Linked DNA regions of Homo sapiens. The protein of the gene in region 3 purifies or fractionates together with the protein of the main gene of each other region. This does not show direct contact. Each region holds a gene or a part of one and is shown on either strand. Other genes may lie near its edges. The genes, in order: KDM7A, USP24, KDM6B, GART, AKAP8, STAT5B and SLFN11.

The links.
Region 1: the proteins of KDM6B (region 3) and KDM7A purify together in Homo sapiens (affinity purification with mass spectrometry; 2 studies listed by BioGRID and IntAct, with this or other methods). This does not show direct contact.
Region 2: the proteins of KDM6B (region 3) and USP24 purify together in Homo sapiens (affinity purification with mass spectrometry, with the first as the bait; one large-scale study listed by BioGRID). This does not show direct contact.
Region 4: the proteins of KDM6B (region 3) and GART purify together in Homo sapiens (affinity purification with mass spectrometry, with the first as the bait; one large-scale study listed by BioGRID). This does not show direct contact.
Region 5: the proteins of KDM6B (region 3) and AKAP8 purify together in Homo sapiens (affinity purification with mass spectrometry, with the first as the bait; 2 studies listed by BioGRID). This does not show direct contact.
Region 6: the proteins of KDM6B (region 3) and STAT5B purify together in Homo sapiens (affinity purification with mass spectrometry, with the first as the bait; one large-scale study listed by BioGRID). This does not show direct contact.
Region 7: the proteins of KDM6B (region 3) and SLFN11 purify together in Homo sapiens (affinity purification with mass spectrometry, with the first as the bait; one large-scale study listed by BioGRID). This does not show direct contact.

What each region holds. Positions count from the first base shown.
Region 1 is NC_000007.14:140,083,879-140,087,552, forward strand, and holds the end of KDM7A (lysine-specific demethylase 7A), read right to left. Parts: 3' UTR 868-3,674; downstream 1-867. UniProt on the Homo sapiens protein: Histone demethylase required for brain development.
Region 2 is NC_000001.11:55,212,565-55,216,518, forward strand, and holds the start of USP24 (ubiquitin carboxyl-terminal hydrolase 24), read right to left. Parts: upstream 2,801-3,954; 5' UTR 2,550-2,800; coding exon 2,226-2,549; intron 1-2,225. UniProt on the Homo sapiens protein: Ubiquitin-specific protease that regulates cell survival in various contexts through modulating the protein stability of some of its substrates including DDB2, MCL1 or TP53.
Region 3 is NC_000017.11:7,851,217-7,855,296, forward strand, and holds the end of KDM6B (lysine-specific demethylase 6B), read left to right. Parts: coding exon 1-10; exon of another isoform or gene 11-105; intron 106-113; coding exon 114-178; intron 179-240; exon of another isoform or gene 241-261; coding exon 262-333; exon of another isoform or gene 334-431; coding exon 432-580; intron 581-734; coding exon 735-849; intron 850-932; coding exon 933-1,120; intron 1,121-1,278; coding exon 1,279-1,420; intron 1,421-1,783; coding exon 1,784-1,910; intron 1,911-1,993; coding exon 1,994-2,164; coding exon of another isoform or gene 2,165-2,281; coding exon 2,282-2,305; 3' UTR 2,306-3,580; downstream 3,581-4,080. Other genes in the region: TMEM88 (transmembrane protein 88), read left to right, coding at 3,859-4,068. UniProt on the Homo sapiens protein: Histone demethylase that specifically demethylates 'Lys-27' of histone H3, thereby playing a central role in histone code. Demethylates trimethylated and dimethylated H3 'Lys-27'.
Region 4 is NC_000021.9:33,521,298-33,525,602, forward strand, and holds part of GART (trifunctional purine biosynthetic protein adenosine-3), read right to left. Parts: intron 3,704-4,305; coding exon 3,472-3,703; coding exon of another isoform or gene 3,468-3,471; exon of another isoform or gene 2,712-3,467; intron 986-2,711; coding exon 891-985; intron 1-890. UniProt on the Homo sapiens protein: Trifunctional enzyme that catalyzes three distinct reactions as part of the 'de novo' inosine monophosphate biosynthetic pathway.
Region 5 is NC_000019.10:15,352,496-15,356,203, forward strand, and holds the end of AKAP8 (A-kinase anchor protein 8), read right to left. Parts: intron 2,876-3,708; coding exon 2,420-2,875; 3' UTR 890-2,419; downstream 1-889. UniProt on the Homo sapiens protein: Anchoring protein that mediates the subcellular compartmentation of cAMP-dependent protein kinase (PKA type II).
Region 6 is NC_000017.11:42,265,992-42,270,296, forward strand, and holds part of STAT5B (signal transducer and activator of transcription 5B), read right to left. Parts: exon of another isoform or gene 2,295-4,305; intron 1-2,294. UniProt on the Homo sapiens protein: Carries out a dual function: signal transduction and activation of transcription. Mediates cellular responses to the cytokine KITLG/SCF and other growth factors. Binds to the GAS element and activates PRL-induced transcription.
Region 7 is NC_000017.11:35,359,317-35,363,621, forward strand, and holds part of SLFN11 (schlafen family member 11), read right to left. Parts: coding exon 3,423-4,305; intron 1,056-3,422; coding exon 927-1,055; intron 1-926. UniProt on the Homo sapiens protein: Inhibitor of DNA replication that promotes cell death in response to DNA damage. Acts as a guardian of the genome by killing cells with defective replication.

The DNA.
Region 1 (3,674 bases), on a different chromosome or scaffold from region 3:
TTCAGATTTAGATTTCAACCAATTTCATGAAAGCAGACACAGGAGATGCAAACTGCTTTTGTGGATTCCGTTCTAGGGGCGGAAGCAGCTCTCAAGGTGTGTTTAAGTGTGCATGCTTTGGCGTCCCTGTTCTTTTGCAGATATTAGGGGGAGGGAGGGTATGGTCTTTGGTCCTTCTGGTCACTTGGTTTCTGGGACTCTGAGCTCAGTTTCTCCTCGGGAACAGACTTCCTGCCCACTTGTCTCCTTCCTAGGCTTCTCTTCTGCCCTGGAAGTGATGCCTGCAGGGCTCCTTCCTTCCTGGTCCAGAGTTCCTCTCTCATCTCCTCTAAGGACAGATCTTTTTCCTGGTCCGTATCATCCCTGTCTCTCAGACCCTGAGTCCAAAACTGAGCTCATCTTCCTCACGGAGTGTGCACTTAACACTCTCACCTTCACCAGCCAGCCAGGCCACCACACCCCTGGCTCTCACTTGCCTTTTGTGTCTCACACAAGCTCCTTGAGGCCTGGGACTTGGTTTTGCTCACTCCTGCAGCACTAGTGCTAAAACAGTGCCTACTGTACTGCAGGTGTTAGGAAATATTTGTGGGATGCCTGGGCAGGGGCTGTGAGTGTGCTGAAATGTTCATTAGCCAAGTACCCACATCCGTTTCTACGTTTCAGCCTCATGTTGCCAATTACACTTTTGTATTCTTCCCTCTCTTTGAGCAATCACTCATCCCCAGCAATACTGCTAATAAAATAAGACAATTACTTTTCACATTGAAGTCTTCAGAAGTAGTAAGGAGCAGACGCTGAACCCAGTTTTTCATACTTTTAAATAATTTCCCATGATTCAATCAGCAGAAAAAGGGAACAAAGTCAGAATTGGATATAGAATTCAGATTCTTTTTCTTTCAAGGACGCATTTTATACAATTTTCAACATTTATACTTTCAAACAAAATGAGCAAAAAATACACTAAGTGCTAAAAAAATCAAAACAGAAGTAATACAATTTTAATTTCAATATTTTAAAATACAGAAATTGGAAAGAATACTAAATACAACTTTAAACAAGTCACTTGTCCTCCCCTATAATAATCAATGTAAGCTACTTAAAGACTTACAAATTTAAAGTAAAACAGAAACAAAATAAATACTGTACACTTTCCCTGCCTGCAGGCAAAAGATGGGAAATACTGTTATGAATCAGCAAAGAAATGCTCTTCAAGCTTCAGCACCCCACCTCCCAGCCACACCCCACGCCATTGTCACACAGTGGGCTTCCGGACTGAAAGGACACACATGTCACACACATTGACTGCCTATACAAACAAGACGAGACGCTATTCCGCAGACACCCCCAACAAGAAGAACAGTCCCCTCGGACCGTGGGCATAAAAACCAGTAAGAAAAGTCAGTCAGGCTAGCAAAACGTTACTACAAAACTAGTAAATACCAGAGCCAACAACTGTCCCCTCTCCAAAGTTCACAGATTTGAAACCTCTAAAACCAATACTACCCCTCCCCATCACCCCCCAAAAAAACTTGCTGAAGCACTGGCAAAGTTAGACATTTCACAGTAAATGTGAAAGTTCATATTATATAATCTCTTAAAATGAACCTTTTCACCCTCTTTCCACAGCATGAAACTGTTATGGCTTAATTTATATTAAAAGTAGAAAAGTCTTTTCTGAAGGAAATACCATCTGCGAAGATGCATTTCCTGATCAGTGCTATTTCATACCTAACAACTGTATGACTTGCTTTTGCAGTCAGAAGCTGTTTTTGGAAAAATTGAGGTTATAGCTTTTGATTCAGTCTAACCATAAACTGTAAGGCCCTTAGTTTGGTTTAGGTTTCTTTTGCAAGATAAAATAACCTTGGGGTTCACTTAGTAAGTTACACCTCAGGTCCCTGACTGTAATGTGGAAGTTATACGTAGCTCTGTAAAAATAAAAGGTTACTTATGAATCTTAAAAGGAAGAAATAGTTCTAGGTAAGGAATTAACTCCTCATTATATTTTACATTTAATGCTGGTAAGTTTTACCAACCAAAATACACCAAAGAAATATGAGAGTATGTCTGGGTTATTTTATGCCTGCAAAGTATTATATATTCCAGCACTTATGATCATTGTTTTGGTGAAAAATCTTGGAGGAAAACAGCTGACATTTTGAAAAAGAAATGGCCAAAATGAAACTGGTTGGAGACAAGTTTTACCTTTATAATTAAGCTCCATTTATGACTACTTTCTGAAAGAAAGAGAAGTGAATTCAGAGTGTCACAGGTCTTGCATAGGTAAACTACTTGGAGATCAAGGGCTACGTGGTAGCCAGGGTTTATTAGTGAAATAGTGCAGAGCAGATAAACTTGGAAGAATCACTGAATACAGTTTCGAAAGGTTTTAACAACAAAATGTAATGTTATACTTGTTAAGACAAAGTCTTAAGACACTAGAAGGGGCACCAGGGGGAAGGGGAGAACCTAAGGATATTGCAAAAGAGTATTATTTTCTCCTCTCAGTTAAAATGAGGAAAAAAATACTATAGAAGAATAAAATCACAGTCACAACAAGCTCATTGCTTTGGAAATAGACATTTGCTTCCTAATGACCTTAATTTTTAAAATTTATGTTAAGGATATCAAATATTTGACTTTACAGCATGAAAAAGAGGGAAGGGCTTCTAGGAAGGCTACAGTATTAAGATTACATTACGTTCAACAGCAACAGAATGAGAAAATTAATTCTTCCCCTTTCTTTCCACCTGGTTTCAAGGAAGCACATGAACATCATCTCATAGGGCAAGCCGAAAACTGGGGGCTGTTTTAGGAAGCAAAGTATCAGAGGCCCCAGATCCACTGTGTCTCCCCACGCAAATCACTGTCCACTCTGGGTTACCTGTGTCTCCTTTATTTACCAGCGACACTCTGTCTAGGCTAAAGATCTGATGATCCAGCTTCCCAAGACTGCTTTAGAGGAAGGTCTAGGACACCACCAAGACTGGTGAGCTCTAGCTTCTCTTTATGTGGCGAGCAATTAACAATATTTAATGAGAAAAATGAATTTTTGATAATTATGCCTAGCAGTAGCATACTGGGTCACATGATATTCCAATCAACTCTATCTATAGTCTTACTGCTGCAGAGAGCATCTTTTGAAAAAGGCAGAAAGAATCTTGTCTGTTGAAGATGTCTGGTGGCGTCTCCTTTCCTACACTGGTTTCTTTCTACCAAGCAAACTGTTGGTACCCAACCCAGAGCTGTCTTTGTGCATTCTCACCTTTCTAACCACCTCATTCTCCCCACAAGTTCCCTGGGGAGTTGCTAAGTCATTTTAATTCCATGACTTCCTTCACCTTTATCTAGTACCTGAAGAGTATGCTGAATCTGTGGGGATGGTACTTTCCTAATTCTTCAAGAAAAACCTAAAGCCATCTTTCAGTTAAATCATCTTAACGTACTTGAGGATACACATTCTCACTCTCTTATCCATAAACAACTTCATTTTTCTTCCACTTCAAGCACGAAATCTGATTTTAATCCAGCACCTTGTTGGAGATTCCTCGGATTTTTAAAGTAGCATGCCCTGGGCATATATTTGATATAAAATAAACATCATGAATAGTATTAGTTTTCATTTAAAAATATATATAAAGGTGCATTAATTGCCAGTTTTAACTTAATGATAA
Region 2 (3,954 bases), on a different chromosome or scaffold from region 3:
ATCAAGAGCCTCAGTTTCCCACTGTGTACACCAAGGATGACCAAGAAGTTCCATAGGTGGCATGCATTAAGATTATTAAACCACAGAGGCACATTCTGCGTTAAATGTTTCCAAAAGGCTCCTGTGTGTCAGGAAAGTCTCAGCCTGCCAACCTCTGCCAATACGCTTCGTGGGTAAAGCAGCCTCAGTCACCAGCTCCTCTTGAACTCTTAAAAGTAAACGGTGCAGCTTCCCTCCCCCAGGCCAAATCCACAGGTCTAGGAGAAATGAGGACTTGATGCACTGCTTCGAAAAGATGGAGATTTTATGGATTTTAATTTACCGCAAACCAAACTCCTTAGCCTGCCATTCACGTAAGAAGCCACTCCCAATTCTTTGTACTTACATGTACTGGCAGTAAGCTAAGGTTAGCGCTAATGTTAACATGAATGCACCAAGCATTGTAATTTAAATTGATTTTCCAATCACAGGAAATTAAAAGGTATGACAAAAGAAAAAAAGAATCACATTTCTCACATAATGAGGATACACTGAGCTTTGCAGAGTTATACAAACACCTTCTGAAAAAGCAACGGCTTTCTTCTTGATTTCAAAACTGGGTCAAAAACTAGAAGGAACGAGGGAGGAGTGATAGGAACTGCCAATGAGAAGCTGATTTCTTAAAATGACTTAAGTATGGTTACTCAATTATATGGGAATTTAAAAAAATTCCCAAACTAGGAATAGTAACAATCTTTATTTCCATATACTAGTCAACGATACAGCTAAGTTAGTGGGTTACAGAGGGCAATCTAGCAACTGTGTCTAAGTGTGGAAGCCAAAGAAATCTTGTGCAGAAACCTGTTCTTTTTAAGTGCCACCTTCTTGTTCAAGCTACTTCAGCCCGAGGAACTGTTGCAAAAGCATACAATTAAAAGGATATAACACTGCTCAGGAAAAAGTGTTTCAAAAGGCTTAGCTTCACTAAGCTTAATTCTTCATTAAGAACGAACCAAATTCGTATCTCTACCTAATAACGCAATCCCAATAATTTGAGATCTGTGCTTTTCTGTGGTCAGGCCAAGCTGCTCTACTGGCCCCTGAAATGAACTACCCAACGAATCTGACCAAAATTCCTGCCATGAGCTACTATGTTTCTGCAAAGTAATTATTCAAAAGCACTGCTGCTTCTGGTCGATCTTTTTTCTTTATTATAGAAGAGTCCGTTTTCTTCCCCCACGTTCCTTGCTCACACCCCAAACTAAACAGGCATAGTCTTCTCCACCTAGACTTGAGGTCTCTGATCAAAGCCATTAGCCTCAAGACTCCTCCTCCACCCCCACTGCGCTCCCACCCTGTTCCGCGCCCCTCTGCATAGCACCCTCAGTATGACTACCATCTCTTTCCCCGGTCTAATTTTCTCTCATTTCTGACCTTATCGATGACCAGTACTCCCTCTTTACCCAGACCTGGTGCCAGCTCTATCTTCCAATTCCAGTCCCCATCCCTGCCTAGACCCTCCTCAGCTCCCACCCCTGCCCAGGCCTCCCACCTCTGCCCTCTCAGTGCAATCCCCACTGCTCTCATACCTGATTTTATTCAAGTCCTCATTCCTGGCCGCGGCCCCTTCCCTCTTCATTTTAAATCCTACTCAATGCCCCCCCTTTCCGACCCTTGGCTAAAACCCCAACCTCACTCCTAACCCCAACAGTTTTCCTGTGATCCTGTCAAAGACCACTACTCTGGCCGGCCCACACCGCTTTTTCTGACTCTGAGCCTGGTGCCTCCGCCAATCCTTCACTGAAACCTCGTGCCACAAAATCTCCGACCTAGCCTAGTGCACTAGTACCCCATTTCCGACCCCCTACTGCACGCATCCTTCCCACTATATGCTCAAGTGTCTGTCCTCCCATCTCGGATGATAGCCCTGGAGCCTCCTCCCCATCGTCGGCGTGCATAGCCGGAAGCCTAAGGGACCCCTCCTCACCCCAACCCACAGCTCCGCTGCGCATCCCTAATTCCCTTTCACACGCCTCTCCTATGGGTCCCTCTCCCCACTTACCCCCAATCAAGTGACTTCGGTTCCCAACTGGAGCCTGGGGCTTCTCTCTCTCTCTCCGCCCCGCCCCCACTAAAGCCCCAGTCGAATGCCCTCTCTCCCCACACCAAGCCCAGCGGGGTGTGTCCCCTCCCAGGAACTCCAGCCCAGTGGCTTCCCACAGAGGTCTGGGGTTGCCCCTCCTCACCTCCGCGTCCACCACCTCGTGGTAGGCGGGCGGGGGGTCGAAGCCGCCCCCGCCTCCGGTGCTCCCGCCGCGGGAGGGGCCGCCGCCGCCGCCGTCACCTCCGCCGTCGCCCCGCGGGCCCCCGCCGGGCCCGGGGCTGGGGCCACCGCCGCTGTCCATGGGCTCGTAGCCGCCGTAGTCGAGGCCCGGCCGCTCGTTGGTGAGCAGTGCCACGGCCTCGTTAATGTCGTTCTTGGCCAGGCGCAGGGCCTTGCGGATGGTGGCGGGGTCTGAGAAGCCCATGCACAGCAGCGTGGTCATGTGCTGCTCCTCCTCCGATTCCATGGCTTGGGCCTCCTGGCCGCCCCGGCCAGCGCACGGCGAAGCTACGGGTCCCGGGCCTGGCGGGCCGCGCGGCGCACCCTCCGCGCCGCCTCCGCGCCCAGGTTGGCCCCTGCGTTCCTGCCCCGGGTGCTCCGCAGCAGCCGGGCCAGGCTGGGTGCGGGCTTGGGTCCTGCGAGCCGAGCTAGTGCGGTGAGGCGCTCAGGCGCGGCTGCGGCCCGGCCCAGCCCTGCGCGCCGCCATGTTGGCCTCCTCCCCCTCCGCCTCCTCCTCCCCGGGCGGCGGGGCCGCGCCTCGGCTCCCGGAAGCGGCACGGGAGGCGACCGTGCTCGCCGTTGGCAGGCTAGGGTTGGCGGCGGCGTATTCTGTTTGTTTTAAACGAAGGAGCGGAGGGAGGGGCCGCGCCGCGGAGCGTGCCTAAGGTGAAAGGGCTGCCGTGCAGCCAGGCAGAGGCGAGGAAGGCTTCTCCATCGTCGCCACCGCCCGCCTGTTTCGCCGGCAACAGGTTCCCCCGGGACGGGAGGGGCCGCAGCGCCGCGCAGCTCGCAGCGCTGAACGTCGCGGAAATCCCTTGGCCGGCCGAGCCTCCGCAGCCGCGACCCGGCTTCTCTCCGTCCGAGTCCCCCGAGCCTCTCCGAACCCCCGTTGGACTTCCCCTCCCTGGCCGGCGCCGCCCGACCCGCTCCCCCATCCTAGAGGGAATTCCCTGCGCCGCGGCTGTGAGGCACCTCCACCCCGGCCTGAAATGCACCGCAGTCCTGAAGGAAATCCACCCTCATCCCACGCAGATTCACCCGCAACGCTGCCTGAATACGCCTCGCTGCCCACAGAAATTCCTGCCCAAACCAGACGCGTGGACCACCCAAGACGAAATTCACACTCGACCCTAGCCCCGCCAGCCCTTGCCGAAATCACCCTAAACCCGTTGAAATTAATTCCCAGCTGTCCGAATTTTCCTTCCAACATTAACTGACTACCTGTCTCCGCCAAGCTGACTGAACTCTACCGAACTCTTACCCTGAAAGCCCCTGAGAGTCCAAAATATATTTTTCCAGCCCGAAATCTAAATCCCAGTTCTCTGTATGAAAACCTCCAGAAACCCAGACTCTTACTTCCTTCGGCCACGGACTCGTTCGAACATCGTGGACATCACCTTCCCACATTTTTACCGCAGTCTTTGGCTCCGATTCTTTGTCCCTGCCTCTTGGGCAGCATCCTATCCCTGTTTCTTTCCACCTTTGAGGATTCCTCTACCTCTTTAAAGGCCTGCTTTCTTTGCTTTCTCTTCTCACCTTTGGCATTGGCACACTGGGGTCATATCTTTAGTTCCCTTGACTCCACCATCTAAGCCAAGGGTGTCCAATCTTTTGGCTTCCCTGGGCTACATTGGAAGGAGAAAAATTGTCTT
Region 3 (4,080 bases):
GTCTCTGCAGGTGAGATGAGAACGTGGCCAGAGGCAGGTCCTGGGACGGGGCTGCGGTGGGAGGGCTCTCGAAAGGTCTCTGACCCAGGCCTGCCTACCCTCTGGCTGAACAGGAGGAGAAGGAGAGTGAGGATGAGGAGTCAGAGGAGCCAGACAGCACCACTGGAACCCCTCCTAGGTACTGTGCAGGTGTGCCCCTTCTGTTCCTGCTTCCTTCCCCTCCCTCTGCTCTCCACCAACCTGTGCTCTTCGCCCCAGCAGCAGCGCACCAGACCCGAAGAACCATCACATCATCAAGTTTGGCACCAACATCGACTTGTCTGATGCTAAGCGGTCAGTGGGGCTGAGGCCAGGGAAGTTGGGGCAGGAGTGCTGCTAGGACCTCGTGGCGGGGGCGGGGTGTAGCCTCTCGTCGCACTTCCGCACCGCAGGTGGAAGCCCCAGCTGCAGGAGCTGCTGAAGCTGCCCGCCTTCATGCGGGTAACATCCACGGGCAACATGCTGAGCCACGTGGGCCACACCATCCTGGGCATGAACACGGTGCAGCTGTACATGAAGGTGCCCGGCAGCCGAACGCCAGGTGCGCTCCACGCCTGTGCGCGCTGATGCTGGAAGCGCGAGAGGAGGGGCTGGCGGCGGCGCTCAGCCGTCAGCCAATGAGGGCAGAGGGCGGGGCTATCGGGGATCGCAGTTCCGACCTGGCCAGCCATGCCGTTCTCTGTCGACCCCTGCAGGCCACCAGGAGAATAACAACTTCTGCTCCGTCAACATCAACATTGGCCCAGGCGACTGCGAGTGGTTCGCGGTGCACGAGCACTACTGGGAGACCATCAGCGCTTTCTGTGATCGGTGCGTGCCGTCCTGCGCAAGTCAGACTGCCGCGTCCCCGCCCTCGGTCCCCAGTTCCCACCTGACCTGTGGCCACCCCGCAGGCACGGCGTGGACTACTTGACGGGTTCCTGGTGGCCAATCCTGGATGATCTCTATGCATCCAATATTCCTGTGTACCGCTTCGTGCAGCGACCCGGAGACCTCGTGTGGATTAATGCGGGGACTGTGCACTGGGTGCAGGCCACCGGCTGGTGCAACAACATTGCCTGGAACGTGGGGCCCCTCACCGGTGAGAGGGTGGGGCAGGTGTTGGCGTGGTGTGGCGCCTCAGCGGCAAGGGCCTGGGAGGCTGGGGCTTGGAGAGCCGCCAGCAGTGAGGGAAGGGGCTTGGGCCTAGGTGTCTGGGGGCTGTTTGAGAGTCCTGTTGTGATCGCCTTTGGCCCGCAGCCTATCAGTACCAGCTGGCCCTGGAACGATACGAGTGGAATGAGGTGAAGAACGTCAAATCCATCGTGCCCATGATTCACGTGTCATGGAACGTGGCTCGCACGGTCAAAATCAGCGACCCCGACTTGTTCAAGATGATCAAGTGAGGACCCTATTTGGGTGGGAGCCCACCTCCACTGACTGGTCCCTTTTCTTGTTCTTCCTGTCTGACTCCACCCCATTTTTACCTCTCTCCATCCTTGTCTGCCTGTGCCCCGAGTGTTACTGTGTTGGGGAGGCTAACTAGGTCCTTGCTGTCATGACCTTTTCTAGTGGTCCAAATAGACAAAAGCCACAGGAAACTTCGCCTATAACAGATGCCCAGGACAGAGGATGTGACCTAGACATGAAGCGGGGAGGCCCCTAGGGGAGGGCCCTGGGGCTGCCCACCCCTCTGCCCTTGCTCCAGCCCTGCCTCAGGCCTCCTCCTTGCCGGTGGTCTCAACACAACCCCACTGCTCCCCAGGTTCTGCCTGCTGCAGTCCATGAAGCACTGCCAGGTGCAACGCGAGAGCCTGGTGCGGGCAGGGAAGAAAATCGCTTACCAGGGCCGTGTCAAGGACGAGCCAGCCTACTACTGCAACGAGTGCGATGTGAGTGGGCCGGCTCTGCTGCTCTCCCTGAGTGTCCACAGTGGCCCTCCCTCCCCCTGACTGCACTGTCCTCCCTGCCCCAGGTGGAGGTGTTTAACATCCTGTTCGTGACAAGTGAGAATGGCAGCCGCAACACGTACCTGGTACACTGCGAGGGCTGTGCCCGGCGCCGCAGCGCAGGCCTGCAGGGCGTGGTGGTGCTGGAGCAGTACCGCACTGAGGAGCTGGCTCAGGCCTACGACGCCTTCACGCTGGTGAGGGCCCGGCGGGCGCGCGGGCAGCGGAGGAGGGCACTGGGGCAGGCTGCAGGGACGGGCTTCGGGAGCCCGGCCGCGCCTTTCCCTGAGCCCCCGCCGGCTTTCTCCCCCCAGGCCCCAGCCAGCACGTCGCGATGAGGCCGGACGCCCCGCCCGCCTGCCTGCCCGCGCAAGGCGCCGCGGGGCCACCAGCACATGCCTGGGCTGGACCTAGGTCCCGCCTGTGGCCGAGAAGGGGGTCGGGCCCAGCCCTTCCACCCCATTGGCAGCTCCCCTCACTTAATTTATTAAGAAAAACTTTTTTTTTTTTTTTAGCAAATATGAGGAAAAAAGGAAAAAAAATGGGAGACGGGGGAGGGGGCTGGCAGCCCCTCGCCCACCAGCGCCTCCCCTCACCGACTTTGGCCTTTTTAGCAACAGACACAAGGACCAGGCTCCGGCGGCGGCGGGGGTCACATACGGGTTCCCTCACCCTGCCAGCCGCCCGCCCGCCCGGCGCAGATGCACGCGGCTCGTGTATGTACATAGACGTTACGGCAGCCGAGGTTTTTAATGAGATTCTTTCTATGGGCTTTACCCCTCCCCCGGAACCTCCTTTTTTACTTCCAATGCTAGCTGTGACCCCTGTACATGTCTCTTTATTCACTTGGTTATGATTTGTATTTTTTGTTCTTTTCTTGTTTTTTTGTTTTTAATTTATAACAGTCCCACTCACCTCTATTTATTCATTTTTGGGAAAACCCGACCTCCCACACCCCCAAGCCATCCTGCCCGCCCCTCCAGGGACCGCCCGTCGCCGGGCTCTCCCCGCGCCCCAGTGTGTGTCCGGGCCCGGCCCGACCGTCTCCACCCGTCCGCCCGCGGCTCCAGCCGGGTTCTCATGGTGCTCAAACCCGCTCCCCTCCCCTACGTCCTGCACTTTCTCGGACCAGTCCCCCCACTCCCGACCCGACCCCAGCCCCACCTGAGGGTGAGCAACTCCTGTACTGTAGGGGAAGAAGTGGGAACTGAAATGGTATTTTGTAAAAAAAATAAATAAAATAAAAAAATTAAAGGTTTTAAAGAAAGAACTATGAGGAAAAGGAACCCCGTCCTTCCCAGCCCCGGCCAACTTTAAAAAACACAGACCTTCACCCCCACCCCCTTTTCTTTTTAAGTGTGAAACAACCCAGGGCCAGGGCCTCACTGGGGCAGGGACACCCCGGGGTGAGTTTCTCTGGGGCTTTATTTTCGTTTTGTTGGTTGTTTTTTCTCCACGCTGGGGCTGCGGAGGGGTGGGGGGTTTACAGTCCCGCACCCTCGCACTGCACTGTCTCTCTGCCCCAGGGGCAGAGGGGTCTTCCCAACCCTACCCCTATTTTCGGTGATTTTTGTGTGAGAATATTAATATTAAAAATAAACGGAGAAAAAAAATCCTGTTTCGCTAACGGCTGGTGGTAGCAGGTTGAGTACCGGGAGGGCTGCAAGACCGTGATTGATGGGGAGGACTGCGCAGACCCTGGCGAGGGTGAGCCCCTCCCCGGAGGCGCCTGTGGAATGTCCAGGGCTCTGGTCCGCTCCTCGGGATGGGGGGTGCCTAATCCTAGAGCCGCATTCCAGGATAAGGGGGGTGGGGAGAGGCTGGGCCGGGGGAGGGGCAGGAAAGAGGGCTATAAGGGCAGCGGCCCAGGCGGGCGGGATCCAGGCGGGCCATGGCGGATGTCCCCGGGGCACAGCGAGCGGTTCCTGGTGACGGCCCAGAGCCCCGGGACCCCCTGGACTGTTGGGCCTGCGCTGTTCTTGTAACAGCCCAGAATCTGCTGGTGGCTGCCTTCAATCTTCTCCTGCTGGTGCTGGTGCTAGGGACCATCTTGCTACCCGCTGTCACCATGCTGGGCTTCGGCTTCCTCTGCCACTCTCAGGTGAGCGTGCGC
Region 4 (4,305 bases), on a different chromosome or scaffold from region 3:
AGTATGAGAGATTGCACCATGTGCTCAAAGAATTGATTAAGAAAGTAATTAAGGCTGGGCGTGGTGGCTCACCCCTGTAATCCCAGCACTTTGGGAGGCCGAGGCGGGTGGATCACAAGGTCAGGAGATCGAGACCATCCTGGTTAACACAGTGAAACCCCGTCTCTACTAAAAATACAAAAAAATTAGCTGGGCGTGGTGGCGGGCACCTGTAGTCCCAGCTACTCGGGAGGCTGAGGCAGGAGAATGGCGTGAATGCAGGAGGCAGAGCTTGCAGCTAGCCGAAATGGCACCACTGCACTCCAGCCTGGGCGACAGAGCCAGACTTTGTCTCAAAAAAAAAAAAAAAAAAAAAGGAAGTAATTAAATACTAAAGGACCAGCCAGACATGGTGGCTCATGCCTATAATCCCAGCACTTTGGGAGGCTGAGGTGGGCAGATTGCCTGAGGTCAGGAGTTCAAGACCAGCTTGGCCAACATGGTGAAATCATGTCTCTACAAAAATACAAAAATTAGCCAGGCATGATGGTGGGTGCCTATAATCCCAATTACTTGGGAGACTGAGGCAGGAGAATCGCTTGAAATCAGGATGCAGAGGTTGCAGTGAGCCGAGATGGTGCCATTGCACTCCAGCCTGGGCAAGACTCTTGTCTCAAAAAAAAAAAAAAAAAAAGTAAAGGAGCATACATATCCTTTTGAGTTTAACATGACAGATGAGAAATACTTTAATATTAAAGAAAAGAAAGCAGAAGACTGGGTTTGGCTTAAGCAGGGCAAAACTTACAGTAACCAAGCATTGCTTTGGAAAATATTCCTGTTAAATATAAAACCCAAATCCATTCACAATGTATATCAAAGTTAATGAATTAGCAAAGTATAGGATCACTGACCTGATCTGGAAGTGGCTTTTGCTAAAGGCTGAATTTTCTTGACCAGCATATTTCCAGCTGCGATATCTACTCCAGATTCCTTGTAAGTCAAACTCCTAAAGAATTAAAAACAAGTCATCACCTAAACGTCAGGGAAAATTATTTTAATCTTAAAATATTATTTAAAGCAGAAGATATCCCAAGTGATTTTCACATACCCTAAAGTGCTTAAATTTTTTTAAAGTCAGTGCCTGGGCCACATCTATACAGATTCTGATTTAACTGGTCTAGGGCAGGCTCTGGGAATTGAAATGAGTTTGAACCATCTCCCCAGTTGACTTGATTACATCATCCCTGAGAACCGCTATTCTAACTCAATCACCTATTTCTTCTACAAGTACTTCTCACAGGCTGCTAAATATACTGATTCTTTTAAATGATTTTTTATTAAGGTAGAATATACACAACATAAAATTCAGCATCTTAACCATTTTTAAGTGAACAGTTCAATAGTATTGAATACAATTATAATGCTGTGCACCCGGCACCATCATCCATCTCCATAATCCTTTATCTTGTAAAACTGAACGTCTGTCCCAGTTAAATAACTCCCCATTCCCCACTACCCCAGACCCTGGCAACCATCTGTTTAAAAGTAGATATACTGACATTTTGCTGCAACTTTTCTCAGTTCAATTTTGGTATGAACAAGAGAGGAATGCCTAATCAAGTCAAAAAAGTGAAAATTAGATTTGTAAAAACCGTACACAAGTATCCCTAAATAATTAAACTGAGTTCTTAATTTCAGTAATATATAACTGTATCTGTTTCCTAATAGCTGAGGACAGTAAACACTATGACAAAAGCAAAACCAGGTAAAGATACTCAGTGCATCATTTCCTTCTGTATAGGACCCACAAGTCGGAGCAGTACATTTAGAGATCAAATTTTTGAATGACACTGCAGATTTTGTAGTCTTGACTTGCAAAAATGAGAACTCTGGCCTGCTGGGATGCAGTGATACATGAAGAAATATGTGTTTTTATAGAAGTGTCTTTAAAAAAAGCATACAAAAACAAAAAACAAAAAAGCTGCCAGAATACAGTTGAGTGCATTGGCAGTTAACTCAAATAAAGCCAGCAGCTCTGGGTCACTCTCAGATAGAAAACAAAGACTGATGTTAAAAAACCTTTTCTCCAGTAGCAACTAACACTGTGGCATTTCCATTTTTTCATCTTTATAACTTAAATAATTCAGACTAGAATTGAGATTGCAGTCCCTTGAAATAGGTCATTTCAATGGAATCTAGTCATTTTTAAATGAAAAATAAATTTTTAGCCTGGTATTTTGATGTTCTTGATTCTTGGAAAATCTGTGTTTAAACTTTAAAAAAACCTGCCTCTTGGTAACAGTATAGCTTGAATTACGTTGGTAAAAAAATTTTGTCTTAAAATTTATTCATTATCCGTAAATGAACTTCACGAACAATAGCAAATGTGATATATTTTTAAGAAATCAGGCCGGGCACGGTGGCTCACGCCTGTAATCCCAGTACTTGGTGAGGCTGAGGCAGGCAGATCACCTGAGGTCAGGAGTTCGAGACCAGCCCGGCCAACATGGTGAAACCCCATGTCTACCAAAAACACAAAAATTAGCTGGGCACGGTGGCAGGCACCTGTAATCCCAGCTACTCAGGAGGCTGAGGAAGGGGAATCACTTGAACCCGGGAGGTGGAGGTTGCAGTGAGGCGAGATCATGCCACTGCACTCCAGCCTGGGCGACAAGAGCAAAATTCTGTCTCAAAAAAAAAAAAAAAAAAAAAAAGAAATCAAAACACCCACATTTCCAACTAAGACTTTATTGATTTTACAAGTCAACAGTTTGTACATACCAACAATGAATCAGTAAGAGGTCAAAAAATACATTTTAGTAATAGATACAAACGCAGTGATAAAATGAGACTGTCAAACTTTACAGTATAATCAAATCAAATTACAAAGTTAGATGACCAGTATTCTCATCTTCAGTTCTTTGATAAAACCATGAACTATGTTTCAAATACAACACTATGTGATAACGCAAGGAATAAAAATCAGTATCAGGCCAAGTGCAGCGGCTCATGCCTATAATCCCAGCATTTTGGGAGGCCAAAGCAGGAGGATCACTTGAGCCCAGGATTTCAGACTGGCCTTGGCAACATGGTGAAACCCCATCTCCACAAAAAATACAAAAAAATTAGCCAGGTGTGGTGGCCTGTGCCTGTAGTCCCAGCTATTTGGGAGGCTGAGGCATGAGAACTTGGGCGAGAGAGGAAGACCCTGTTAAAAAAATTAAAAATATAAAATAAAAAAAATAGAAAACAAATAAAAATCAGTACCACTGTGATTTTGCTAAACTTTCCAAACTTACGCTATCATGAAGTTTTTTCCATTTGAGTATTGCTATAACCAGTTTTGATTCAAACAAAATACAAACCAAGACTGTATCACTCCCACAGAGAGAAAAGAATACTGAATGACTTATAGGGTTAATGAAATGTTCTACATAGCCATTTAGGCCAGTTTCTGAAATGGCACTACAGCTAACTTGCTTAGAGTTTTACCTGGGCTGCTGGAGGAAAGCTATGGCACGAAAGCCGACGTCTTTCCTATAAATTGCTCCCTCAAACTTTATAGCAGCTAGTCCTTTCTTGGCTTCCTCAAGGGCTGATATGAGATTTTCCCGGATGGCTGTGACTGCAAGAACTCTACCCCCATGAGTTACTACTTTGCCATTTTTGAGGGCAGTGCCTGCATGGAACACCTCCAGTCCTAGAGCTTGAGCCTCAGGAAACCCTAGAAGAGAGCATATTTGACATATGATTTCAAATAGCAACAGTATTTCACACCGTGAAGTGATTTACGATTTCCACAAGTTTCTTTTTTTTTTTTTTTAACTTGGCTAGGTGCGGTGGCTCATGCTTATAATTCCAGCACTTTGGGAGGCTGAGGCAAGGACTGCTTGAGTCCATGAGTTCGAGACCAGCCTGGGCAACAGAGCAAGACCTCGCCTCTACATAAATAAATAAATAAATAAATAATAATAGCCAAGTGTGGCGGCACACACCAGCTGAGGTGGGAGGATCACTTGAATTTGGGAGTTTGAGGCTGCAGTGAGGTGTGATCGCACCACTGCTCCAAACCCAGCAACAGAGACCCTGTCTCCAAATAAATAAATACATAAAAATTAAAGATCTTTCTCTCACTTAAAAGAACCTTCCCTATCAGACAGGTCTTCTTTTATTTTTTGAGACGGAGTCTCACTCTGTTGCCAAGCTAGTAGTGGTGTGATCTCCGCTCACTGCAACCTCTGCCTCCTGGGTTCAAGCAATTCTCTTGCCTCAACCTCAGGAGTAGCTGGGACTACAGGAATGTGCCACCACACCCAGCTAATTTTT
Region 5 (3,708 bases), on a different chromosome or scaffold from region 3:
ATTATGTAGTTTCACCAAGAGGTGGAAGGTGGAAGAGCCTCACTGACATTCAGACCAATTTAATGACAGGTCTTGGATTGACATATACATATTTTGAAACGAAATTTTGCTCGTCGCTCAGGCTGGAGTGCAGTGATGCAGTATCAGCTCACTGCAACCTCTGCCTCCAGAGTTCAAGTGATTTTCCTGCCTCAGCCTCCAGAGTAGCTGGGACTACAGGCACCTGCCACCACGCCTGGCTAATTGTGTATTTTTAGTAGAGATGGGGTTTCACCACGTTGGCCAAGATGCTCTCGATCTCCTGACCTTGTGATCTGCCCGCCTTGGCCTCCCAAAGTCCTGGGATTACAGGCATGAGCCACCACACCTGGCCTGATATTTTATTTTTTTGAGACAAATTCTTGCTCTGTTGCCCAGGCTGGAGTGCAGTAGCGCAACCTCGACTCACTGCAGCCTCTGCCTCCCTGGTTCAAGCGATTCTTCTGCCTCAGCTTCCCCAGCAGCTGGGATTACAGGTGTGTGCCACCACACCCAGCTAATTTTTGTATTTTTGGTATAGACAGGGTTTTGCCATGTTGGCCAGGCTGGTCTTGAACTCCCGACCTCTACTGATCCACCTGCGTTGGTCTCCTAAAGTGCCAGGAATACAGGTGTGAGCCACCATGCCTGGCCGGGTCTTGGATTTTTATAAGAAGAAAAAAAAGGTGTGGGGTAGGGGAGAGCCAGGTGCAGTAGCTCATGCCTGTAATCCTGGGAGGCAGAGGTTGCAGTAAGCCAAGATCACGCCACTGCACTCCAGCCTGGGCAACAGAGTAAGACTGTCTCAAAAAAAAAAAAAAAAAGAAAAAAAAAAGAAAATTAAGGAAATAAAGCAGTTCCACTAGTGATGTTTTTCTGCACTACTGTTTAATGCTACCGACATTTTTGCCTTAAGAGAACAAGCTTAAAAGGCATGCTCACCCTGCGATTAAGACGCATCTACACAACACAAACGGATGCTGAGCAGAAATGACCCAGAGGCACCATCGTCTTTTCAAGCAGTTTATTTCCATTTTCAGTTCTAATGTTGACTTTTTCATAAATATTCACCTGGAATCTCCACTAAGGCTCCTCATGAGCAGGGCCCAATTCCTAGAATGTGCTTGGTGAGTTAGCCCCTGGTATACAGTAGAGGCTCGGCAAATATTCTACAGCCTCCTTTCTAATGATTTCCCAGTGGCCAGCGTTTCCCAACATGTGAGATGTACAGTTCAAAAGGCCACAGGGAAACTGACACAGCAGGGCCATTTCAAAAGGGGAGGATCTTCCAATTCTTCTGATTTTAGGAAATTCTGTTGCGTGCTAACCTTGAACACATGCTAGCCTCCCTTTCTCAGATTTGGAAAGATCTAAAGTAATAGTTATTTCTCTAAAATGAAACATATATTTCATTTTATATATATATATATATATTACAGATACCTTCTATCTATGGCAATTTATGTTGGATTATTCCACCTATGGCAATCACATCAAGTTTTCTTTCCTTTTTTTTTAAGAGATGGGGTCTTGCTATGTTGTCCAGGTTGGTCTTGAACTCCTGGGCTTAAGCTATCCTCTCACCACGGCCTCCCGAAGTGCTGGGATTATAGGTATGCATCACCGTGCCTGGCCAAATTCTCTTTGTAAATACATTTGAGTGGTAGTAACTAATTTTAAAGGAAAAAAACCTGAAGTAATCTAGAGGTGGAACACAAATGAGGTAAAATATTAGAGAACTGATTCAGCAAGGACTAAAGATTGGGACGCAATGCCCTCTGCACAGTCTGGTTCTTGAGGTTGCGGTGGGTGTGTTTCCAGTGGCGTAGGTCGGTCAGATACTTCTGGCCTTTGGGAGTGCGTGGATGTGACGCGGTCAGTGCCACATGTGAACCAGGTGCTGCGAAGTCCTGTGAAAGTCACACACCATATGGTGCACTACAAAGGTATAGGTTAAAGGCTGAAGCTTGAAACATACAAAAAAAAATCCTCTATAGAGCAAGATATATTCCTAGTATTCAGCTGTTCCCAACCAAATAAAAAAAAAAATTAAGGAAAAAAATAAAAAAGGAAGCATTCCATCAGTGGCTGTATTGAACAAGTAATGTATCATCAAGATATAATCACCCAACCTTTATTATTCCAAGTGCACTACTGTCAAGAGACATGTTACAGCCGCTAAGGACAATGTACTTCAGCTTTGAAACCTGGGCAAGAAGCCACACGACTGCATGAGACAAGCCGTGAGAGGCACTGCTCAGGAGGAAACGCTGGGTCTCTTCACCAAAATTAGATTACAGCATATTCTGGGAGCACACGCCCTTGTACTGCTTACAAACCAAGGGAGAAAGACCAACGCATCCATCATCCCAACGCCTTCCCTGGAACAGGGAAATGAGCATCATTCTGTGGGAACAGCGTCTTTAGACTCTGCATCAGTTTGTTCCACTTCAGCATCCGCGGCAGCTGGGGCAGGAGCAACTCTGGTTTGGGCACTTTCTGCCTCTGCTGCCATTGTCTCGGCGCCATTTCCAGCCTCTGCAGCCTCACTTCTGGCCTTGGGGACGCCCTTCTCATGTGCCGTTCCACAGGGCACCTGCTCTTCCAGCAGCTGTTCGGCTTGAGGATCACTACCGGCCTCCGCTGTGTCCGTGGGGCCTTCGTCCTCAGCCGGCTCCCCGCTGCTCTCTGGAGCGGGCGCTCCTTCCCCATCTACGGCCCTCACTGCTGCTGTAATCACCTCTGCTAAGACGTCCGCGGCCACCTCCTCAGGTGTCTCTTTCTTATCCTCACCTCCTAAATTGTCATCTCCTTCCATTTCTGGATCAACAGTTTCACTGGTGAAAGGGTCCTCACCCTGGCCAAAGAGGAAACACCGGTCAGCGTGGTGTAAGCAGAGCTCAGGAGGCCCATGATTGCGGGGATGTCAGCTTTTCAGAACCAGCAGTCCACAAGGGAAACACTTCTGTAAATTATGCCACAGGAGTGAATCCTACATGTTCTCAGAGCCTACAGATTCAGAAAACACCTCGGGGAGATATTCTGCAATTTTTTTTTTTTTTGAGATGGAGTCTCGCTGTTGCCCAGGCTGGACTGCAGTGGTGCGATCTCGGCTCACTGCAACCTCCGCCTCCTGTGTTTTTAGTAGAGATGGGGTTTCCACCCACCTCAGCCTCCCAAAGCGCTGCGATTACAGGTGTGAACCACCATGCCCGGCCCATTCTGCAATTTTTTTTTTTTTGAGACGGAGTTTTGCTTTGTTGCCCAGGATGGAGTGCAATGGCGCGATCTCAGCTCACCACAACCTCTGCCTCCTGGTTTCAAGTGATTCTCCTGCCTCAGCCTCCTGAGTAGCTGGGATTACAGGCAGGAGCCACCACGCCCGGCTAATTTTGTATTTTTAGTGGAGACGGGGTTTCACCATGTTGGGCAGACTGGTCTGGAACTCCAGACCTCAGGTGATCCGCCTGCCTTGGCCTCCCAAAATGCTGGGATTACAGGCACGAGCCACCGTGCCTGGCCTGCAATTTTTAATCAAGCATGTACCAGCGAGGAAAAGTTCACAAGCCCAGCCTTAACTTGATGTTTTTTAAAAAAGGGCATGAGGCCGGGCGTGATGGCTCACACCTGTAATCCCAGCACTTTGGGAGGCCAAGATGGGTGGATCACGAGGTCAGGAGATGGACACCA
Region 6 (4,305 bases), about 34 Mb from region 3:
TTGTCATATATATTAGAAATATTTTTCTTATTTTGTCACTTAGCTTTGGTTTCTGGCATTTTTTGGCATAAAGAAGTTTTAAATATTTATGTATACATATAAAAAGACATATGTGTATCTATAAGATGTATCTTCTTTTATTAGTTATTAAAGCCACTTATATCCTGTTCAAATTTACCAATAAAACTGGAATGTAATGTTAAGTTCTGTGCAAACTAGACCTCTTCACATTTGGGTAATAAAAATTCAAAACTAGCCAGGCTCAGGGGCTCACACCTGCAGTCCCATCTACTCTGGAGGCTGAGGTGGGAGGATCACTTGAGCTCAGGACTTTGAGACCAGCCCGGGCAACATAGTGAGACCCCACTCTTTAAAAAATAATAATAATAAATTAAAATAATAAATAAAATTCAAAACCATAAATTTTGAGAATATCACATTTTTGGACAAAATTTTAAATGTGTGTCTAAAGTAATACGTTTTCTTACTTAAGGACCCACTCCTGGCACACTTCACTCATCCTGGGCAACAGAGCAAGACACTGTCTCAAAAAATAAAAAAAAAAAAAAAAAAATCATTCCCTTAAAATTATATGCTTTTTGGCCCGGTGCAGTGACTCATTCCTGTAATCCCAATACTGTGGAAGGTTGAGGTGGGAGGTGTGGAGGTGGAGGTGGGAGGGATCACCTGGAGACATAGCAAGACCCCTGTCTCTATTTTTTTTTAACTATGTGCATTTTTCTGGTATTGCAAAGTCAAGGGATCTTGCCTCATCACCAACTCAGCATGTGAATTGTAGCCATGCCACTCAGGAAGCCAAATATTTTCTATTTTGTTTTGATACCTTCAACATGAGGAGAAAGGCCAATCTCTTCATACATTACAATGAAATTAGTATTTTTACTTGATATTTAAACTCACTGCAAGATAAACTCATTTGTAAAACATGACTACACTCAGAGTTTCCATATATGTAGTCAGGCACCACATAATGACGTTTCAGTCAATGACAGACCACATATATCACTGTGGTCCCATAAGATAATAAAACGTAGCTGAAAAATTCCTATCCTCTAGTGACGCTGTAGCCATCATAATGTTGTAATGCAATGCATGACTCACATGTTTGTGGCAATGCTGGTGTAAACAAACCCACTGCACTGCCAGTCATGTGAAAGTCTAGCACATACAATTGCGTGCAGTACATACTTGATAATGATAATAAATGCCTATGTTACTGGTTTATGTATTTACCATACTTTTTATCGTTATTTTAGAGTGTACTCCTTCTACTTAAAAAAAAAAGTTAACTGTAAAACAGCCTCAGGCAGGTCCTTCAGGAGGCATTGTTATCACAAGAGATGACAGCTCCATATGTGTTACTGCCCCTGAAGACCTTTCAGTGGAACAAGATGTGGAGGTGCAAGACAGTGATACTGATGACCCTGACCCTGTGTAGGCCTAGACTAATGTGTGTGTTTATGCCTTCACTTTTAAGAAAAAGTTTTTAAAGTTTTGAAAAATTAAAAAGTTTTTAAAGTTTTGAAAAATTAAAAATTATTTAAAAAGAGAAAAAGTAAAAGAATAAAAACATAAAGAAAATATTGTTGCACAGCTGTACATGTTTATGTGTTAAGCTAAGTGTTACTACAAAAGAGTTTAAAAGTGTAAAAAAGTAAACAGTTGGCCGGGCACGGCGGCTCACACCTATAATCCGAGCACTTTGGGAGGTCAAAGTGGGTGGATCACCTGAGGTCAGAAGTTTGAGACCAGCCTGGCCAACATGGTGAAACCCCGTCTCTACTAAAAATACAAAAATTAGCCAGGCGTGGTGGCACACGCCTGTAATCCCAGCTATTCGGGAGGCTGAGGAAGGAGAATTGCTTGAACCGGGAGGTAGAGGTTGCAGTGATCCGAGATCACGCCACTGCACTCCAGCCTGGGCCACAAGAGCAAGACTCCATCTCAAAAAAAAAAAAAAAAAGTAAAAAGTTTACAAAGTAAAAGTATTACAGTAGGCTAAGGTTATTATTGAAGAAAGAAACAATTTTCAAAATACATTTAATGTAGCCTAACCAGACAGTATTTTTAAAATCTACAGTAATGTACAGTAATGTCCTAGGCCTTCACATTCACTCACCATTCACCCACTGAGTTGCCCAGAGCAACTTCCAGTCCTGCAAGCTCCATTCCTGTTAAGTACCCTATATAGATGTACCATTTTTTATCCTTTATGCCATGTTTTTACTGTAACTTTTCTATATTTAGATATGTTTAGATACACAAATACTTACCCTTGTGTTACAATTGTCTACAGTACTCAATACAGTATACATGTTCCACAGGTTTGTAGTCTAGGAGCAATAGGCTTTATCATACAGCCTAGGTGTGCAGTAGGGCTCACCATCTACGTTTGTGTAAGTACCCTCTATGATGGTACCACAATGACAAAATCGCCTAATGCATTTCTTAGAACTTTGTCACCATGTATCATTAAGTGACAAACGACTATAGTTACGTAACAATAACCAAAGAAAAATACAAAAAGAGGGACTATTTACATTGTATCCTTACATATTAAACCTTCCATGCCTTCGGAATAAGAATCTAGTATCCAGTTCTCACTATACATAGCTTTCCCTCACTTTCTATCAGAAATGAGATAGGAGTCCCACCTTCCTGGCATCAGAAACAGATCACCAATCCTGCAAACAAATTCACAGGGTGAACTGTTTCATTTTTAAAGAGCTGTAGATTTCTGTAGATCTCTAATTTGCTACTTTTCCTAAACCTAAAAGATGACCAAAAGATTTTTAGAAACATTAAACAAAAAAACAGAATTAGCATTATTTCTAACAGAACATTTTACCTATTTAAATATACTGTAGAATGAATGCTATATTACAAAGCTGATGAATTCCAATTTTTAGTACTTTAAGAGATCAAGTGTTCAAGTTTCTTTTTATATAGGCTACAATGACATGTATGAATGTAACTTAACATTTAGCCCAGGTTAGATTTTTTAAAATCCCACTCCTTCAAAAACAGTGACTTGCCACCAGCTATAGGCTCTGAATTTATTTAATTTATTTATTTTTTTGAGATGGAGTCTCGCTCCGTCTCCCAGGCTGGAGCACAGTAGTGCGATCTCGGCTCACTGTAACCTCTGCCTCCTGGGTTCAAGTGATTCTTCTGCCTCAGCCTCCTGAGTAGCTGGGATTACAGGCGTGCACCACCACACCTGGCTAATTTTTGTATTTTTAGTAGAGACAGGGTTTCACCATGTTGGCCAGGCTGGTCTCCAACTCCTGACCTCACGTGATCCGCTTGCCTCGGCCTCCCAAATTGTTAGGATTACAGGCGTGAGCCACTGGGCCCGACCTAGGCTCTGAATTTTAGACAACAAAAAATAGTTTCTCACAAACTTTTTAACTTACTCTCACCTAAAGGCTGGAAAACCCCAGTGAAGGCTTTTAAAACTCATCAGACATAGAAAAAAAGAAGCAGCTTTAATTGTAGGATCTCACTGACACAAACATAAGGAAATTCTGAGTTATAGATACCTCACATTAAGCTTTTTCCACTGACATTGTAACTTCTGTCAACATTCAAAGAAAATTCAACCCTGGTCAAAGGTGACAGTTGACAATCCTGGAAGCTAACATCCTCTGTTTATTTGAACAAGTTTATACTCTGCACAGGGAATTGAAGTTCTTCTTGTCTGTGACTTGATCTCCCAAAGTTAAAGCACTACGCTTTAGGGTTGTGAATTCTGTTTCCAAGACTTAACTTCACAATCCACTCCCAAGGAAAAGTGCTGAGAGAAAGTAAGCATCATAAATGAAAAAAAAAAAAAAATCTGAGACTATTTTCTAATGGCCTTTGCAGAGCTCTAGACATACAATAGTTCAGTTGCCTTAAAAATTCGCCCAAATAGGCTGGGCATGGTGGCTTATGCCTGTAATCCCAGCACTTCGGAAGGCCAAGGCAGGAGGATCACCTGAGGTCAGGAGTTCGAGACCAGCCTGGCCAACATGTCAAAACCCCGTCTCTACTAAAAATACAAAAATTAGCTGGGCATGGTGGCACATGCCTGTAGTCCTAGCTACTCCGGAGGCTGGGCAGGAGAATCTCTTGAACCCAGGAGACGGAGGTTGCAGTGAGCCAAGATCGCGCCACTGCATTCCAGCCTGGGTGACAGAGCGAGGCTCTGTCTCAAGAAATAATAATAATAAATTAGCCCAAATAAGTAAAATTCTTAAATCTGTCTCAGAAATCATGACTAATGCTCTAAAAAGCTTTAAT
Region 7 (4,305 bases), about 28 Mb from region 3:
AAATATAAATTTGATATGTAAATGAATGCAAGGACCTTGGATAAAGGAAAAAATGAAATTCTAATGGGGGCAGTCATTATCTATTAATTTAATGATCCTTGACAGATATTTACACATATATAGGACATTTATGTATCAATTATAGTGCCAGATAAGCCACTGACTTACTGCACAGATTTAAGCAAGTGGTTTTCCCTCTCTGGGATTCTACAAAGACAGCAATGGATTCCTAAGCAAAGCCTATCATGGGAACAAGGGATAAGAGTAGAGAAAAGGCGTTGACCTTGGTCCTGAATTATTGTGTTTGTGCTGCTACGTGATTGTCCTAAACCCAAAACATGGGAAGAAATGCATAATCCATCTCCATTTTAAATGTTTTGTTTTCCATCTTGACCTAGATTTATATTGTTTTCTCTTATTTACAACCACCACTCCCGTGGAAAATCTGGCAAGGGCAGGCAGTTTTTTGGCTGCTCTCTGGTGCAGCATATGACTAGTTTGACTAGATAAAAGGTTTCCAATCTAGATGAACATAAAATCATGAGGGTAGTTTGAGAAAAGTACATATTGCAAGCCACTCTCCCCACATATTCCAATTTGTTATGAGTGGAGTAGGGACTCAGATATGTGTCCTTTTAAAAATGACCAGAAACACTGATGATCAGCCAGATTTGGGAACTACAAGAACAAATAGTCTTTAAGGGAAATAATGTTCCTGGATTCTATGTGTGGTCCTGCCTTAGCCAGTGGGGTCAGTAAGGGTTCATTTCTAAACCACTTATCACCAATAGGATTGTAACATCATCACGTCTTACAAATGGGTTTGCAGAGCACTTTCAGGATTTTACAAAACAAATATTATAGTTTAATCTCCCTTTATCCTAATATAGAAACTGGCTGGTGTTGAGAAGACAAACCATAATTACCTGAAAATAAAAGTTGCTGGAGTTCCTTTTTATGTTCCAGGCCTTTCTTGGAGTACACTGGTCTGCTAAGGGGAGGCCCACTAGATAGACTCAGCTGACATTCAAAATCTTCAGACAACTGTAGAAGATCTTAAGAAAGAAAATTCATGTTATTCTGACGTGTTAATCTCTTCATACTGAAAGAGGCTCTATCAGTAGGTGGAATGTGTGACTTTCTAAATAGTTTGACTTGAGAGATAATATCAAAATAACTCTCCTCTCACTCACTTACTCTAGATAAGTGCCTTTATTGCATATCAAGGTTGCCAAAACCCACCCTGAAAAGCCATTATTTGGAAGTTTAACTGTATTTCTCCATTCAGTATAATTCTTCATTCTCTGTATCTGGTTAGCATTTTGTTTGCACACCTGTTACGTTACCTAGCTCATTCTTTTAGTACTGCTGTCTGTGCATGTATCTTGTTTTACATCCCCTCTCCAACTGCCACCACCTCTCCTGAACCCAACTCTCAACTCTGTTCAATATCATCTCATCACTGATTTGTAATTACCATTACTCACACTTAAAAAATAGCTTAGGGCTTGGGCACAGTAGCTTGTGCCTGTAGCCTCAGCTACTCAAGAGACTGAAGTGAGAGGATCACTTGAGCCCAGGAGTTCAAGGCTGTAGTGGACTATGATCACGCCACTGCACTCCAGCCTGGGTGACATTCTGACACCTATGCTTATTCCTGAAGTTAAAATGAGAAATTGTGTGAAATCAAAGGACATTATAGAGTGCATTAACTTTTTCATGTGCTTTGGAGATTGGAGTCAGCTTTATAATATCTCCTTTCCAAGTACACATCCACTTTACTCAGAAGATTGTGTCCCAATTTTTATGTTCTCTCTGTGTTTCTCCAGGCTTAGGGTGTTCTCAGTTGTTCTAGAGACACTGAGATAGCCCACTAGCCTGCCAAATTATAGCATGATGGGGTAAATATAGAAACATGTTTGGGAAGCAGTAGTGATGCAAGGCAAGAAATATTTCAAACTGTTAGGAGCAGAGGGGTAGAGCAGATTATACCTGCTGGCATAGAGCATAATGGGTACATGGTGATGAGTGGAAGAAAAGGCAAAATATCAACAGGATAAACAGAGACACAGGACAATATGAAACGGTACTGAGGACAAACCTTGAATACACCCCTACCCCCGTGACCCTCATCACCCTGAAATACTTTCTGTTCTTTTGTTTTTGAGACAGGGTCTCACTCTCACCCATGCTGGGGTGCATTGCTGTAATAATGGCTCACTGCAGCCTCAAACTCCAGGGCTCAAGTGATCCTCCCACCACAGCCTCCGAAAGTGCTGGAATTATAGGTGTCAGCCACCATGCTTGGCCCTGAGCTACTTTCAAATTTTCCTGAGCTACAAAATCAACAATGTCCTCAAGGATCAAGAGATAAACTACATCTTAATTTAGGCAGGGTACTATTATAAGGTGATAGCAAACTTCAATGCAAAGGGCTTTTTTTTTTGAGACAGAGTCTCGCTCTGTCACCCAGACTGGAGTGCAGTGGTGCAATCTCGGCTCACTGCAACCTCCTCCTCCCAGGTTCAAGCAATTCTTCTGCTTCAGCCTCCCAAGTAGCTGAGACCACAGGCACGCACCACCACGTCTGACTAATTTTTCTATTTTTAGTAGAGACGGGGTTTCACCATATTGGTCTTGAACTCCTGCTCAGGTGATCCACCCACCTCAGCCTCCCAAAATGCTGGGATTAGAGGCATGAGCCACCAAGCCCAGCCCAAGAAAGCAACCCCAGAAAGCAGTACTATCTATGCTGGTGATGGTTTAATAAACAGATCTAGTTGAGAAGAGATCCCTCGTTCATAGCCAACTGCCAGTTTCTGTTTTATAAATCTTCCTGCCATGGACAATTTCAAGCTCCTAATGGATTATCACTAAATACAGAGTTGGAAAGCCATGCACAGTAGCACTCCATTTTATAGTATTCCCACCACACAGATACAATAGATGTAAATAATCTCTCAAGCAAAGATAATAGTGAAATGTAGCAAATAATTAGGAAGTGGTGAGTTTGAATTTATTACATTTGTTTCTGATACGATTTATTTAGGTGCAAGTATATACAATCTAATTTTTAGTAATAACTATGTTTAACAACTAGCTCAAAAATTCCTGAAAATTTAATAATTGATTCTAAAGCCAGTAAGAGCCATTCCAGTACACCATTGCAAGGGTGGCCATTCTCAAATAATTTTCTGTTCAGTTACTAATGTAGAAAATTGGCCATTTATAGACATGTGAGTTAGGTTTCTAATCACCCAACAAAATTTTCTCATGTATGAAAAGTAGAATACTTGGGGATTCAAAATAAAGTGTTCAGTGGATGTAAGATGTTCAAAGTCATAGGCAGCAAAGGAAAATTTAATATGGGAGGTCCCAAGGATGTAGAAAGGACAGGGAGGGAGGAGCTTTCTCCCTCTTACCTGGATCTGTGTCTGTCATCATGCCTACCCATTTCTCGGTTGTCAGGCTGCAGACGTACTTGTCCTCCACTATCCATGAATTGGGAGCTTCTGAGAACACTGCACAGCAGAAGGGATTTACTCTGATCATGCAAGCATAGCCATAGAGCTCTCCCCTTTTTAACACATTCACAATTTTGAGTGTGAAGGTTATCGGGCGTTGGGGTTGGCAAAAATGAACACAAGGTAGTTTGTATATGGCTTGTTCTATTTTCCTTCTCAAAGAGTCAGGGTCAACATTTTCTTTTGCACATCCCAGGACTTCCCTACTCTTATCATCCACTCCAATAAAAAGATAGCCTCCTCCAGTGTTTGCAAATGCAGGGACGTATTCTGGAATTGTCCTTTTTACATATTCTTGGAAGTGTTTTGTAGAGAACTGTTTAAACTCTACTAACTGAGACTCAGGAAAAGGCAGGATTTCACCATATTCAAGATAGTCTTTTTGGAAAATTAGGTCAGCAGGATCCGAGTTTGGGTCAGCAGGATCCGAGTTAGGGAGCTCTTGGTATACACCCTTGTGAATTTTGTGAAAAGGTCCTTCTTCCAAGATTTTTGGCTTCCTTTTGGTCTTCAGGAAACAGAATGCCTCTCTTGAGTCCATGGAACGCACAGAGGTCTCAGATCTACGGTATAATGAAGAACTGAGGCTGCAAAGGCGGGGCTTGACAGAGCGATCTTCAGGGAAAGGGCCACTGCTCCAAGATTTAACAAAAATGTAAAAACACCTTCCTTGTTGCTTGGTCTCAAAGAAAGCCTGCAGATCTGAAGACTGAATAAGCTCTCTCAAAGACTGTTCTAAATCCAGTCCCATCTCCACGGGATGCTCAACCTTCTTGGCCAT